Regions from separate parts of the Homo sapiens genome. Here region 2 is linked to region 1. The links come from fine-mapping of genetic effects on gene expression. Tissue or cell type: sun-exposed skin. Region 1 holds a variant in brackets; the other region holds the start of a gene. All regions are shown on one strand. Distances are between the middles of the regions.

Evidence for each region. PIP is the estimated chance that this variant, and not a neighbour inherited with it, causes the effect.
Region 2: it holds the start of MRPL45, and the variant in region 1 is fine-mapped to the expression of MRPL45 in sun-exposed skin (GTEx, PIP above 0.99).

The regions. Positions count from the first base shown.
Region 1 is chr17:38,583,595-38,591,697 of GRCh38, reverse strand. The region is part of intron 1 of SRCIN1 (SRC kinase signaling inhibitor 1); the gene reads left to right. Among named protein-coding and RNA genes, the nearest start is that of SRCIN1, 18 kb to the left of the region's middle. The variant AG/G (reference allele first, on the strand shown) is at 3,759.
Region 2 is chr17:38,293,149-38,301,251 of GRCh38, reverse strand. It overlaps MRPL45 (mitochondrial ribosomal protein L45), which reads right to left and starts at 4,084. Exons shown (of 8, transcript NM_032351.6): 1 at 4,003-4,084; 2 at 2,626-2,803; 3 at 1,784-1,901. The coding sequence starts at 4,068. It overlaps LOC105371760 (a long non-coding RNA gene), which reads left to right and starts at 5,647. Exons shown (of 3, transcript XR_934732.2): 1 at 5,647-5,758. RefSeq lists enhancers at 3,649-4,199, 4,200-4,748.

The DNA.
Region 1 (8,103 bases):
TGGCCCCCTGAGGTCTGAGGCTGGGGGAGGCCTGAGCGTTAGGAGCAGGAGGCAAGGAAGGTATGTTCTGGCCCTGGAACAGCGCTCTTAGGCCCTGAGCATTTGTTTTTCCTGGCACATGTGCTGTGTGGGCAGGAGGGGCACTAGCGAAGGCACTTTAGTAACAGAAGCAGAGAGGAGTCACCTGTGCTGCTCATACCTCATCTGGACCATTAGAGCAGTTCTGAAGGCCAGCAGCCAAGAGGGGTGGTGACATGGGGATTACCCAACAAAGGGTGGTGCAGATGGCTGGGGGGCTGGGCCACACAGGAAGGACCTGAGGGCTTATGACAGAAGGTTCCGGTTCAGGAGCCTCCACTCTGCTCCAAAGGGAGAGGTCATGACCTTCCCCCAGGTTCCCCTGAGGGCCATGGGCACAGACTGTGGCTCATGTTAAGGAAGGAGAAACCCCACAAGATGATTGGTGCTTTGGATGTAATGAGTTCTCCTTTCCTGGAAGTATCTAAGACCTGACTGGCTGGAGCTCCTGATTTGCAGTTCTGTCTCTGCACAGCCTGTGGCAGGGGCTGGGAGGGCTTCGTATCCAGCATAGGTACAAGAAGGCTACGAGTAGGGCTGTGGAAAGGTGGATCCCCTAGAAGGTCTTTCAGGACTGTGGGACCCCCACTTCCAGCCTAAGTTTCTGTGATCTGGGGGTGGCTCTGCTTCCTCCCTCTCCTCCAGCCCTGGGGAATAGGCCCCCCCAAGAGGACTGGGTGGATGGCGCCCAAGATTAGCTGGGAAGGAGGGTTGTTTCAGCGTTCTCTTCTTAGGGTGTAGGAAGGACAGAGGGGACCTGTGGGGCTCTGGCCTAATGGCTTAGATGAGTACTCACAGATGACCTGGTGGCAGAATCAGCATCTTCCTCAGGGGCAACAGAGTGTAGGGGAAAGAAGAAGGACATGGGCTAATGGGCTAAGCACCCCGGCAGTTGAGATCAGCCTCTTCCACTTATCAACTCTGACCTTGGACAAGTCACTCCTTCCTGAGCCTCAGTTTCTTCACCTGTAAAATAGGGGGTTTGCAACCTCACAAGGTGACTGTGAGAATGAAGAGAATGATGGCTGCACGAGCCCTTTGAGATCATCATGAATATGTGTGGGTGTTCAAGGGTGGTTATCATGGCTGGGTGCAGTGGCTCATGCCTGTAATCCCAGCACTTAGGGAGGCCAAGGCGGGCAGATCACCTGAGGTCAGGAGTTTGAGACCAGCCTGGCCAACACAGCAAAACCTTGTCTCTATTAAGAATACAAAAATTAGCCAGGTGTGGTGGCACGGGCCTGTAGTCCCAGCTACTCGGGAGGCTGAGGCAGGAGAATTGCTTGAACCCGGGAGGAGGGGTTTGCAGTGAACTGAGATTGTGCCACTGCACTCCAGCCTGGGCGACAGAGCAGGACTGTCTCAAGAAAAAGAGTGGTTATCATTTCATGGCTGGTCCATATTTCCCACAGCTTCCAGAAAGCCCGATGCTGGGTTTAACCCTCGTCACTCAAGATGGATGTGTGGATTGGAGAAGGGAGGGTGGGAGTCTTTGTGTCTTTCGCAGAAGGGGAGACAGTTTATTTTTCCTTGCCTTGAAGCCTGTGCTCCACATTCCCAGATGCTGCTCTGATGGGAGAGCTCAGGTTAGACAACAAAGAGAACTTCCACAAGATGCCCCTGCTATCTGACCAGGCCCTGGCTTCCAAAGACTGCCTGACCCAGAGGCCAAGCCGACTTGCCAAGTCTCCTGCCTTTTCCAAACTGTGAACTCCGGGCTGCCCTCGCCCCATCCTCCAGAGTCTCTCGGGATACTAACAGGGTGTCCCTAGGGAGAGAGAATCATGGGCTGCAGATTCGGCTGTTTGTTCTTAGCTAGCTTGCAGGGTGGCAGAGAAATTAACCCATGAGGTGAGAGCTAAGCCTTGGGTCCCAGCAGCCCTGTCCTTCCCCATCAGCAGAGCTGGAAGCTGGGCAGAGGCTCTCCGGCCCCCTCGCCCTGGTGGAGGCGCTGAGCACCTACAGAGGTGGAATGAGGGCTGGAGGCAACCAGGTCCCAGAGGAGGGTCTCACTCATGAACATCGCCCCATTGGCTAAGCATTGGTCAGAGTAGGTGGCCTTGAGGTTACTGGGCTGACTCCTGTATTTTAAGACATTGTGTAAACACCTCAGCAAGGGAGCCCCGAACCTGGCAAAGTGGAAAAGGAGCTGAAGATGTCGCCTCCATGAGGGACTCAGGATGGGCAAGTCCCCACTGTCTTTCACCCCAAGCTGGAGATGCATCCACCTGGCGCTTTAGCGAGCCCCAGATGCCCTGCATGAGCTGCGTGGACTGGCATGACATTCTCCCTGTCTGCGTGGCATCTAAGGTGGCAGAGTGGGGCACCCTGGTGGGCCCAGGTATGTAGACCCCTGCATGTAGACTGTCATGAATACGTGTGGGTGTTCAAGAGTGGTTATCATGGCTGGGCACGGTGGCTCACGCCTGTAAGCCCAGCACTTTGGGAGGCCGAGGCAGGTGGATCACCTGAGGTCAGGTGGAGAGTGCTGGTGAGGCAGGCTGTGACTGGGCCCATGTCAGTGAGCAAGTACTGGGCAGCCAGGCGCATGCCGAGGTGCACAGGTTTGACGTAGAAGCATGAGTGAGCAGATGTGTGTGCCTGGGCGACTGAGTGTGTGCTGGGAACCCGGAGGAATCCTGCTGGTTCTAGCGGCCGAGGGAGCTGTCTGAGTGCTACTAGGTCATAGGGCTGGGACAAGGCCTCCTAGGGAGAGCCTGTCCCCATGAAAGGTGGTGTCTCTGAGGAGGATATCAAGGGCATCTTGGCAAGGCTGGGTCTCCTGCCCAATATTGATGAGCCCGTTGATGAGTACTTGGTGTTGAAAATGCTTCCCTGTGGGGAGGCAGGATGGTGGGTGGGGCTTCCACCACTCACTTCCAACAGATTGGAGTCTCTTCCCCTGGAAACAATATGCTTCCCCCTGGGCACGCTTTCAGCCTGAGGCAGCTGCAGGGAGGGAGGAAAGATCCCTTTCACACACAGAGGGGCGCAGCACTCAGGCTGGAGTGCCCCCTGGGGAGAAGACGCCCTGGCAGCCTCCTCAGAGTGATGGCAGAGCTGAGGACAGGCACCGGCCTTCCTCCCTTCCCACCCTCCAGTGTTCCCTCCTCCCCTCCCGCTCGGCCTGTGTTCCCCTCGGCTGCCTCTCCAAGGAGATGTGGAGCTGACAGGACACCTTCCCTGGGCGCGTGAGCAGTGGAGCTGCCACACAGGAGTTAGCTGGTTAACATAGTGCCGCGTGGGCACATGCCAGGGCTGTTCTCAGCATTTCCAGCTCCAGCTTCAGACTGGGGGTGACATGCTGCCCTCCATATCTCTGCCCCCTTCCTTCCCAGGGAAGCCAATTAGCCAGATCTTCATTAGAAGCCAAAAATCACAACCCCACAGTCCTGGGTCTGATACAACTCTGACAGTGGGTGGAAGGAAATCGGGCTCCGGGGTAGATCAGAAGAAACTGACTCTGCTCACCCAGGCTCTGCAGTCTGCATGCCTGTTGCCTGTTGCCTGTTGCCTGTTATTAGCTTCTGCTTCTTCTTCTTCTTCCTTTTTTTTTTTTTTGTTAAAGCAAATGAGAGGACTGAAGCTCTGAGCATCCCCTGACCTACTCAAGGTCACATAACTAGTCAGTGGATGCAGTGGTTTTTGGTAATGTCACAGATTTGCCTGCTGTGTGTGAA[AG/G]AGGAGGGGCAGGGGGAAGAAAGAGGGTTGTATATCTGGAATTCTGGGCACGGGGCTGATTTGCACATTTTGCAAGGATGGGGAGTCTTGTCTGAATGTGCAGTTCGGATGCCCTGCGGGGACCCTGATTTCTGTGTGGTGAGCATCCCCCTGGGCTGGGGGCATCACTGGGCCATGGACCCCAGCTTTTCTCCCTGTCGGCCGGGCTGCTGCGGTGTTTCTGCCTTGCTGCTGATCCTTCCTAAGGAGGTTGTTAGTCTGTGTCCTCCTGGGGCCCGTGGCCTAGAGAGGGGCTCCCCAGGCAGCTGCTTTCTGGGAAGTGGCATCGTGGAATGGAAAAATCCTTGTCCCTGAGGGCCAGGACCCCTGGGTTCCACTTTGGGCTCTGCCTTCAGCTCCTGCAGATTGGGTCAGGCTTGTACTCTGGGTGTTGGTTTCCTGCCTAGGAAAGGCATCTGGCTGGAGAGAGAGCACTGTGGTTTCCCGACACAGGACGGGTAAGGAGGGGGCCACCTCTTCCCGAGAGCTGAGAGCTGAGGGGAGGCCCCACCTCACCACCAGAGTCTGAGAGCTGCTGTGCTGTGTGGCCTGGGGCCCTGGGGGAGAGACAGCTGCAAGCAGAAGGAAGCAAGGACTCAATAGCCATGCAGAGCCAGTGCAGTTGGTGGAGGTGGCACCGAGGCCAAGCCTGGGATCTTTGAGAGTCCCCAGGACCCCACCCCACTCCTGATGTGGTGGGTGGGCCTCCTCACCCCACCCAATTCTGCCCTTCTGGGTGGAATGGCCCTTCTGCCATAAGGGAGGCCCCAGTCTGAGGGAGGAGGTGAGGGTCCTGCCCTGGGAGTGCCCAGGTCTGTGCAAGTGGACACAGTCAGCCTGGGATGGGCGAGGAGGAAGAGCTGGGCTGGGGAAGCATCTGATGCCCGCCCCCCTCCCCGGGTGCCCACCCGCAGGGAGCTTGACCCCCTCAAATCTGCTCTCCCCATGGAAAGCCCCAGCAGCTCCACCAGTAGCAGCCAGGGCCCAGGCCCCCAGCCTCACCGCTCCTCCTAGGCAGGTGTCAGTGCCTTCCCCCAGCCTCGAAGAGGTCCTTTAATTAGATTCTGACTCGTTTACCAACTAAGTGGCCTTCAGTGGGTTTTAAATCTGCACAAATTGGTTTGTGTTTTTCTGCCTACACAAAGCTGTGACTGGCAGTGCCCTGCACCCTCCCTAGCTGCCCTTTGCATCACCTCTGCTCCCAGCTCCCTCCAGGGCTCCATCATCCCCCATCCCATTGGATGCCCAGCTTCTGTGGAGCTTGGGAAGGGGGTGGCAGTATTCCCTGGGCAGGGGGATGGAAGAGACCACAGGGTCATAGGCCACAGTCCTAGTCCCCCTTCTTACCCCCACCCCTGGGGAAGGGAGTCCATGTGGTGACTCAGATTAGATCACTCGACCTCCCTGAGCCTCAGTTTCCCTTGCTGTATGATGAGGAGAATCAGCCTGCTCCAGACCCTTCTCCATGGTGGCTTTATAGATCAGGGCTGGGAGGTGGAGGAGGGGACAACAGGTGTATCACCTGCCAAGAACCACCTGACACCTCTTGCCTTGTCCATCTCCCCCCGCCCCCATCCACTACAGTGCCCAGGGAGTGGGCAGGGCCCACGCTGGGGGGATGGCCTCGATCCTCCCTGGCCTCGACCCTCTTCTCTGTCCTCCTTGTCACCCTTGGTGGGGAGGGGAGCTGGCATTCCTTGAAGACAACTTGCCTGGCCTTGCCCCATGTCCCTAGTGCCCTGCCCTAGTCACCAGGAGTCTTTATTTTCTAGCCATCTCCTCCATGCCTTCAACTCAGCTCCTTCTCCTCCCAGGCCCTGTCTCAGGCCTTCTGTCCAGTGGGCTCCCTTCCCACTTCCTCTCTGTCTTCCCTCCTAGTCCAGGCAGACTCTCCTGAAGTGGAGCCTGACATTCAGGGGGTGGGGCTGGGCTGGCAGGGAGTGGGGATCACCGTGGGGAGGTGCAGAGTTTCTGGCCCCCGCTCTGTGCCAGGAGCTAGGCAGGAGCCCCCTGTCTCCAATCCTCAGTCCAGCTGCCTCCTTCCCCCCATCGCCCTTCCCCCATCACACGCCCTCATCTCCGAGGCTTTAGTTGGAGTGACAGGGAGACTCAACAGGGCGCTGGGTATTAGCAATTTGGGGGGATATTACACAGGAATGTTTACAGAAAGGCAATTGCCCGGAAAATGACTTTGGTTGCTGTGGTATGGGGCGGAAAAGATGGTTTTAGAAAACAGACACAGATGGGCTTCTGATCCAAGGACCCACAGCCAGCCAGCAGAAACTGAGGAGTATGGGCACACAAGGAAGGCAGAGCCAGGGGCACCCAGGGACAGGGAGGCCGATTCCTTCACTAGCAGGGGAAGCAAAGGATCCCCTCTCCTAATTCGGGTTCCCAGAGCCTCTGCCTAGTTTGATACATATCTGGTCCCGGTTGACCTTTGTCCTCTGGCCTCCAACCTCCAAGCACACCGTGTGCTTCCCGACTGCAGCAGGCACCCAGCAGGATGGAGTCATCATGCACAATCGAAGGTGGCAGTGCCTCGGGGCTCCTCCTGGCTGACTTGGGCTCCTGTAGCATTGGCTGCAGAGGAGGGACTGGGGGAGCCTCATGCTGTGTGTTTGTGTGTGTGTGTGGGTGTGGCCTAAGGCAGGCAGGTCCTCCACCCTTCCAGCTGTCTCCATGCTCCTCTCCTGCTGCCCTGCCTAGCCCCATGTCCTGTGGGCTTGTGAGTTGGTGTCTTCACCCTGAGTGCCTCCTGCCCTCGCTTCCTGCCAGGGCTATAACCCAGCTCCTACCCCTGCCCAGGCAGTGGGTCGGGGCACACATGTGACAGCCTCTCAGGTCCCCAAGGGAGGGGTTTTGTCCAGCCTCCTTATCTCCACAGAGAGGGTTACAGGGACCTGATTTCCAGATCTTGAGTTTGGGGCTGGGGAGGACTCACATCAGGGGCCCCAGAGAGTTCTCTTCTCCCTTTCCTGAGCTGGTGGCTTCGTTCTTCCTCTACTTTGTCCATTTGCCTCTCTCCTTCCTTCTCCCTCCCTCTCCTCTCCTCTCCCCGTTCTCCTCCTTTGCAGATGACATCATGTGTGAATGTTGCCCAGGGGCAGCCAGAGGACAGAGTAGAGGGTTACATCCGGGGTAAAGATGCCAGTTGGGGACCGGCTTGGTGGCTTATGAGATGGTGTCACTAAGATGTTGGGATCTTAATTCTCATAATCAGTTACAGTGATCTCATGTAAAAGAATGTGGTGGAGGATAAAAATAAATGAGGCTGATAAATAAACGTAGAATTTGGAATTGTTCGGACAAATGACAACGTCACTCTTCCCAAGCACCTGTGCCGTCCTCCTAGCCGGCCACTGGGGGGCGCCCGCCACTTCCCGGCCACCCCAGCCTCAGGCCACTTTCACCTTCCGCGTTTCCCAGGCGGGGCAGGCTGAGCTGAGGGTGGCAGAACCCGCCTTCCTCACCCTGCCCTTCCCCTCATTCGGATTCTGGATTTCGCCAGTTCTTGGCATCTTCCCTGTGGCTTGAATCTCGGACTCAAAAAATATAGTCAGCCTTGCACACTGAGGTTCCTTGGAGAAAAGAGAAGCCCTGAGCCCCCTCCCTTATGTCTCTGGTTTCCCCAACCCCATCCCTGGGTTGGGGGGAACCTTCAGGCCCAACGCCCCTCCACCAGGGTATCCTAGCTTTGCTTCCCTTCCCCCAGAGTTCCCTGCCTCCGTCTCTCTCTATCGCAATGCCCCTATCCCTCTCCCAGCAGAACCCAGCCATGCTTAAGACCCCAGCCCGGGTCTCTCATGCCCTCCCTGCCTGGAACAGGACGCATTGATCTGTGCAGGGCTGGCAGGTGCCTGGATCCGCTTGCTAGATTGGAATCGATCCCTGTGTCTTTTCCCTGGGCTGCTCAGGTCCGAGGGGGGTCAGGGCCACTCCGAGGACTTGCTGATGGCTGGAACAGGCGTAGGGGTAACAGGGAGGTCAGGCTGCTACAAGCCCATCGCTGCTCAGGAATGTCTTTCATTGAAAGCAACCTACTTTGGCCTGGCGCGGTGGCTCACGCCTGTAATCCCAGCACTTTGGGAGGCCGAGGCGGGCGGATCACCTGAGGTCAGGCGTTGGAGACCAGCCTGGCCAACATGGTGAAACTCCGTCTCTACTAAAAATACAAAAATTAGCTGGGCATGGTTGTGGGCTCCTGTAATCCCAGCTACTCAGAAGGCTGAAGCAGGAGAATTGCTTGAGCCCGGGTGGCAGAGGTTGCAGTGAGCCGAGATCGCACCATTGCACTCCAGCCTG
Region 2 (8,103 bases), 290 kb after region 1:
GAAGAAAAAAAAAGTAGGAGGGGAAAAAGACATTTCAGGCAAAGGAAAGGATGTGCAAAGACAAAGAGGAATGGTACAGTACTGGCAAGGAATTGGCAATTAGTTTGGAAATGCTAAAATTTAGGATGAGAAAAATGGAATAAGGACAAAGAATGATGGTGGAGAAAAAGGCAAGGACCAGATTATAAAAGCTTTGTATACCACTGAAGATATCTGGATTTTATTCTTTGGTTAACAGGAAGCCATAAAAGAGTTCTAAGCAGGGAGGTAATATGATAAAATCTTTTTTATTATTATTTTTTTTTGAGACAGAGTTTCGCCCTTGTTGCCCAGGCTGGAGTGCAATGGCACGATCTCGGCTCACCGCAACCTCCGCCTCCCGGGTTCAAGCGATTCTCCTGCCTCAGCCTCCTGAGTAGCTGGGATTACAGGCATGTGCCACCACGCCCGGCTAATTTTGCATTTTTAGTAGAGATGAGGTTTCTCCATGTTGGTCGGGCTGGTTTTCGATTCCTGACCTCAGGTGATCCGCCCACCTCAGCCTCCCAAAGTGCTGGGATTACAGACGTGAGCCACCGCACCCAGCCAATAAAATCTATATGTAGAGAAATAAGTCATGGCCATGTGAAGAATTCATACTGACTCAATATACTTATGCACATAAACCTATACATGATTTACATATAGTGACAGCGGCTACTCTGGGCACAGTGGCCTATGGGGTAGCCCTGCTCTGCAATGAACAGTACAAATTTAAAAAAAAAGATAGATACAGTCAGAGCTAGACTGGCTGGGTGTGACGGGTCACACCTGTAATCCCAGAATTTTGGGAGGCTGAGGTGGGAGGACTGCTTGAGCCCAGGAGTTCGAGACCAGCCTGGGCAACATAGTGATAACCCGTCTCTACAAAAATTTCTTTTAAAAATTAGCCAGGTCGGCTGGGCGCAGTGGCTCACGCCTGTAATCCCAGCACTTCAGGAGGCTGAGGTGGGTGGATCACGAGGTCAAGAGATCGAGACCATCTTGGCCAACATGGTGAAACCCCGTCTTTACTAAAAATACAAAAATTAGCTGGGCGTGGTGGCATGCGTCTGTAGTCCAGCTACTCGGGAGGCTGAGGCAGGAGAATCTCTTGAACCCGGGAGGCAGAGGTTGCAGTGAGTTAAGAGTGAAACTCCGTCTCAAAATAAATAAATAAATAAATAAATAAAGGGCTGGGCGTGGTGGCTCTCACCTGTAATCCCAGCACTTTGGGAGGCCAAGGCGGGCCTCCTGAGGTCAGGAGTTCAAGACCAGCCTGACCAACAGACCAACATGGAGAAACCACATCTCTACTAAAAATACAAAATTAGCCGGGCATGGTGGCACATGCCTGTAATCCCAGCTACTCAGGAGGCTGAGGCAGGAGGATCATTTGAATCCAGGAGGCGGAGGTTGCGGTGAGCCAAGATCGTGCCATTGCATTCTAGTCTGGGCAACAAGAGCGAAACTCCATCTCAAAAAAAAAAAAATTAAATATATGATTAAAAAAGGATCCTATACACTCCAAAGTCAACTCCCTAACTGATATGACAAAAATTACCAATAAAGGCAGGGATGCTGAGAATCAGGAAGCCCACATTATTCTGCATTAAATACAGACTCTAGTACAAAGGAGAAAATACCATCATGTTATTAAGAGAATGACACCCAACCCAATTAACCCAAAAAGGTCTCTTTGGGATAAAGTAGCAACAAAAAATTGTTATTCTAATACCAATACCCAATTGTCTCAGACACCTACGACACTTGTGATGCCATAGTCTTCTTCATTCGTTCAGTTCTCTCTATCAGTCCCTCCTTTGAAAGAGATGATATGCGTGCATCACCCTCAGGAGGAACATAGGCATCAAATATACCAGCTGTAATAAAGGAAGAAAAAAATTAAGAAAGTGTTGAAAGATTGAGAAAAACTCATAAAATTGAAGTAATGTAAAATTGGGAAGGATTGTGGATATGAAGTAGACTAATGAAACAGACTTCCATGTAGAGAGAACTATGTTACACTAGAAAAAAACAAAACAAGGCCGGGCACAGTGGCTCACACCTGTAATCCCAGTACTTTGGGAGGCCGAGGCGGGCGGATCACAAAGTCAGGAATTCAAGACCAGCCTGGCCAAGATGGTGAAACCCCATCTCTACTAAAAATACAAAAATTAGCCGGGCATGGTGGCAGGTGCCTGTAATCCCAGCTACTTGGAAGGCTGAGGTAGGAGAATCGCTTGAACCCAGGGGGGCAGAGGTTGCAGTGAGCCCAGATTGTGCCACTGGGCGACAGAACGAGACTCTGTCTCAAAAAACAAAACAAAACAAAACAAAAAAAGCCAGAAAGATTTAAGTCTTCTCTCAGAGCCTCAGTTTCTACTTCCACAAAATGGAGAAATTTCACTCTTGCCTTCTAGGGACAGTGTGAAAGTAAGTTCAAAGAACAACTTCATGATATATAGTGTATATAAGGTTAATCATTATTGAGGTTGAACTGACTTCGTGCTTAATTAAATATTATCAATCATAGTCCAAGTCATCCCAAGTTCCAGAAGATCTCTGACAGAAGGATCCCAGGTCAGGGTCCCAGAAATACCTCACCTGTACAGGCCAGATGTATGGAACGGTCCGATTTTTCTGGAGGAATAACCAATCCTGCTTTCCGGGCATGTTGCATAAACTCCTTTTCTGTTTTAAATTTAGGTTGATAAATAGGAGGTGTGAAACGTTTTTTAGTTCTTACTGGAACTATAGCTGCGGACTGAGTCACCAGAACTGGCTGGAAGGTAAAGGAAAGGTTAGGAACCTAGAAAAAAGATCTACTATCTTTTACAAACTCTAAGCAAAGCACTATAGAGAGGGAATATCCAAAGAATGCTTCAGGAACAATTATAAAACAATATCACAGGGAAAAAATGCATTAGGACCTTAATACTTATGGGTGTCTCTAAATAGAAGACAGTTAGCAACCTTTATTAACATCACATTTACTAAAGGCTTTCCTTTAGAACTTCCCACAGTACAGGACTATGCTAACTCCTACGGATACTGAGTTGATCAAAGCAAGTTTCAAAAACTGATGGTGATGGGGAAACACCAACTCAATACTGAAATGGGCAGAATACTATTCTTTATTATTTTTTGAGGCAGATCGCTAGCCTAGAGTGCGATGGCACGATCACGGTTCACTGCAGCCTTGACCTCCTGGGCTCTAGCTATCCTCCCACCGCAGCCTCCCAAGTAGCTGGGACTAAGGAGTGCGCCATCGCATCTGGCTAATTTTAAAATTTTTTTGTAAAGACCAGGTCTTATATGTTGCCCAGGCTCATTTCGAACTCCTGGGCTCAAGCCATCCTTCTGCCTCGGACTTTCAAAGTGCTGGGATTACAAGTGTGAACCACCGCGCCGGGCCCTGAATGCTATGCTTAAAGCATAAGCAAAGTCCTCTTGTAGGCATCTGCTCCATATGTACTCGTGATATTTTGCTCATCCTATCGGGAGTCTCGCTGTAAACTTTATTCTGTCGTTTTAGCACCCAACTGACCAATAAACCCTCGAAAGATCAGGAGATCTTTTCTCTCTGATCATGAGGTTTGCTCAGACGGGGCAGTGACAATATGGGACGCCCTCATTTTCGGCTACTCTTCAACGTAGTTCACTTATAAGAATCGAAGATTAGGGAGTCCACCTTCCAACCCATTACTTGTCTCTCCTTTAATATCTCCTCGCCAGACAGACCCAAACCAATCCGGAAAAACTTAATATCCGTTAATTCACTCGCTCTCATGGCCCTGTCTAGGCTATCCCCATTCGACCACTGAGCTCCGCAGCTAGGTCCTGTCCACCTAAGCCTCTTCCCCGGCCTAGGTATGACTCGTATTGTCCCAGCTCACCAAGGACAATTGCACAGAGAGTATTTCCCTCGACTCTGTCCTCTCCTGTAGCCCCTAGGGTCCTATCGGCCCCGTCCCTACCCACCTGCCGAGACCACCAGCCCAAAAACCTCGATAAACAAGAGAACCCTTGAGGTATGGGGGCTGCCATCTTGTTCCCGCAAAGGCCGCCGGGAAGGGAGCTGAGAGTGAAGAGCGTCGGGTAGGAGAAAAGCCGCATAGGGTGGAGCTAGCACAGGAGTGGAATTTTCCAGGGAGCGCGCCCTCCGCCGAAATGTGAGCAGCGAGGACGCGCACGTGCTCGCGGGAGTGGGGGAGGGTGGAGTAAGGAGGGCGGAGTACGGCCGCGCGTGCGCAGGGAGACAACGTTGGGCGTAGGGTGGAACGAACTGTTGTCCCCCGCCAGCGAGAGAGCGCTTGAACGCGAGCTGCGCCTGCGCCCGAGGCTTTCTGAAGGCCGGGGAATGGGCATTGCTGTATGCTTGGCACATTGCCGTTTATTCCATTAGTTAAAAAAGGAAAAGGAGGCCGGGCGCGGTGGCTCACGCCTGTAATCCCAGCACTTTGGGAGGCCGAGACCGGTGGATCACCTGAAGTCAGGAGTTCGAGACCAGCCTGGCCAAAATGACGAAACCCCGTCTCTACTAAAAATACAAAAATTAGCCGGGCGTGGTGGCACACGCCTGTAGTCCCAGCTGCTTGTAAGGCTGAGGCAGGAGAATCGCTTGAACCCAGGAGGCAGAGGTTGCAGTGAGCCGAGATCGCGCCACTGACTCCAGCCAGAGCTAGACTCCGTCTAAAAAAAAAAAAAAAAAATTAGTCGTAGGGTGGAACGCACGGTTGTCATGCGCCAGCAAGAGAGCGCCGGGCTTGGTGGCAGGCGGCTGTAGTCTGAGCTACTTGGGAGGCTAAGGCAGGAGAATCCCTCGAACACAGGAGGCGGAGGCTGCAGTGATCCGAGATCCCGCCACTGCACTCCAGCGTCGGTGACAGAGAAAGACTTTGTCTCAAAAAAAAACAAAAAAAGAGATTGACTACTGTCTTCTACTATGTTTACTAAAGCAGAAGACACGTGAATTGACAAAAACATTTGTGATTTGTCATTTCGGAAAGGAGTCACAGAGCAATTACGTAATTTACTTAAGGTTAGATAGATGATAACTGGCAGAACCGAGATTTGAATCTAAGCAGTCTAATTCCAGAACCCATGCAGGTAACTGCTACGTGCTGCTTCATGTTAAGTTGTTAAAGGATTCGTGATGTTGGGATCACCCTGGTAAATTCAGTAGTGTAAACGTTGCTGAAAGGCAGACACTTTCCACACTTAGCCGTTGGTTATTATTCTGCCAATTACAGCTTACAGAGTTCTCATCTACAATATTTTGCAATAAGTTAGGAGCTACAGGCTGTACATACAAGAAATTTCAGGCTGAAGTAGAATTGCTACAAAGGTCGAAGCAAAGTGCTGGGGACTATCAGAAGAACTGAAAGATTACTTTTGGGTTTGGAGATCACGTGTTGTTGTTGTTTTTGGAGACGGAGTCTCACTCTGTCACCCAGGCTGGAGTGCGGTGGCACAATCTCGGCTCACTGCAACCTCTGCCTCCCAGGTTCAAGCGATTCTCCTGCCTCAGCCGCCAGAGTAACTGGGATTACAGGTGCACGCTGCCATGCCCGGCTAATTTTTTCTAGTTTAGTAGAGACGAGGTTTCACCGTGTTGCCCAGGCTGGTCTCCAACTCCTGAGCTCCGGCAATCCGCCCACCTCGGCCTCCCAAAGTGCAAGGATTACAGGCGTTTTTTAAAGCTTGACTTCGCAGCTATATCGTACATTCTTATGTGGTAAGTATTTCCCTACAAGTTCCAGCCACAGTATTGAACCTATAGCACGACACATTAATAGTGACATGAAATTAGTGCTGTATGTATGTGTTGAAGAGTATGTGGGGTCGTGTGGGGTGGCTCACACTTGTAATCCCAGCACTTTGAGAGGCGGAAGTGGGTTAGATCCCTTGAGTCCAGGAGTTCAAGACCAGCCTGCCCAATATGGCAAAACCCTATCTCTACAAAAAAATTAAAAAATTAGGCCGGGTGCGGTGGCTCACACCTGTAATCCCTGCACTTTGGGAGGCCGAGGCAGGCGAATCACGAGGTCAGGAGATTGAGACCATCCTGGCTAACATGGTGAAACCCCGTCTCTACTAAAAATACAAAAAAAATTAGCCGGGCATGGTGGCAGACGCCTGTAGTCCCAGCTACTCCAGAGGCTGAGACAGGAGAATGGAGTGAACCTGGGAGGCGGAGCTTGCAGTGAGCCGAGATTGTGCCACTGAACTCCAGCCTGAGCGACAGAGCAAGACTCCGTCTCAAAAAAAAAAAAAAAAAAAAATAGCTGGGCATGGTGGCCCCAGCTACTGGGGAGGCTGAGGTGGGAGGATGGCTTAAGTCCAGGAGGCAGAGGTTGCAGTAAGCCAAGATCCCACCACTGCACTCCAGCCTGGGCAACAGAGCTATTCAGTGCCTATAGAAGCATAGGGAAACAAGAAAAAAGAAAAAAATAGAATATATGTTATTAAGCATTTAAATAAGCTATATCTGATTATTTAACAGACTCCTGTCCACCTACTCTAATCCCTAGAAAATAAAACATGATTTTTTTTTTCTCTTGAGACAGTTTTCACTCGTCAGCCAGGATGGAATGCGATAGCGCAATCTTGGCTCGCTGCAACCTCCATCTCTCGGGTTCAAGTGATTCTCCTGCCTCAGCCTCCCAAGTAACTGGGATTACAGGTGCCCACCACCACGCCCAGCTAATTTTTTGTATTTTTAGTAGAGATGGGGTTTCACCATGTTGGCCGGGATGGTCTCAAACTCCTGACCTCAGGTGATCCGCCCACCTCGGCCTCTCAAATTGCTGGGATTACAGGGGTGAGCCACCGTGCCCGGCCAAAACATGAATTATTTTTACTGGTATTCCCAACCAAAGTGAGGAAAGTTTACTCCATGGATGAGAGGTGTTTTTTTTGTTTGTTTTTTTGTTTTTTTTCAGATGCAGTTTCACTCTGTCATCCAGGCTGGAGTGCAATAGCTCGATCTCAGTTCACTGCGACCTCTGCCCCCTGGGTTCAAGCGATTCTCCTGCCTCAGTCCCCCGAGTAGCTGGGATTACAGGTGCCTGCCACTATGCCTGGCTAATTTTTGTATTTTTAGTAGAGATAGGGTTTCACCACATCGCCAGGCTGATCTCTAATTCCTGACCTCAGGTGATCCATCTGCCTCGGCCTCCCAGAGTTCTGGGATTACAGGCGTGAGCCACCGCGCCTGGCCAAGATTATTGATTAATGCAGAACATTAATATAATTTATCTTAGATTACTTCCTCCACCATTGAGTTTTATGTTAGCCTCACACAGTAGCCAACACATCCCAGATCATCTCTGCCCACCCTCTGATCAGTTTCTCAGTTAATACAAACTTGTTCCATATCAGCCTGGATGAAATAATGATAGGGGAGTCAATATCATTTAATTGCTTAGAGATGAGCTATAAGTTAGTTTTGTTGTTGTTTGATGAGCTACTGTTTTGGAAAATTCATATCTTCCTACCTCATCAGCTTCATGGAAAATTGGGAGCTGGCCAGGCACAGTGGCTCACGCGTGTAATCCCAGCACTTCGGGAGGCTGAGGCAGGCAGATCACCTGAGGTCAGGAGCTCAAGACCAGCCTGACCAACATGGAGAAACCCCGTCTCTACTAAAAATACAAAAAATTAGCTGGGCGTGGTAGCGGGCGCCTGTAATCCCAGCTCTTCGGAAGGCTGAGGCAGGAGAATTGCTTGAACCCGGGAGGTGGAGGTTGCGGTGAGCCGAGATCATGCCATTGCACTCTAGCCTGGGCAACAAGAGCAAAACTCAATCCCCCCCAAAAAAAAAAAAAAAAAAAAAAAAGAAGAAAATTGGGAGCTGTCTGTTAGAGAAGTAACACCAAAAGGATATTTCTTTTCTTTCTTTTTTTTTTTGAGATGAAGTTTCACTTTGTTGCCCAGGCTGGCGTACAGTGGGACGATCTCGGCTCACTGCAACGTCGGCCTCCAGGTTCAAGTGATTCTCCTACCTCAGCCTCCGAAGTAGCTGGGATTACAGGTGCCCGCCACCAAGCCTGGCTAATTTTTTCTATTTTTAGTAAAGAT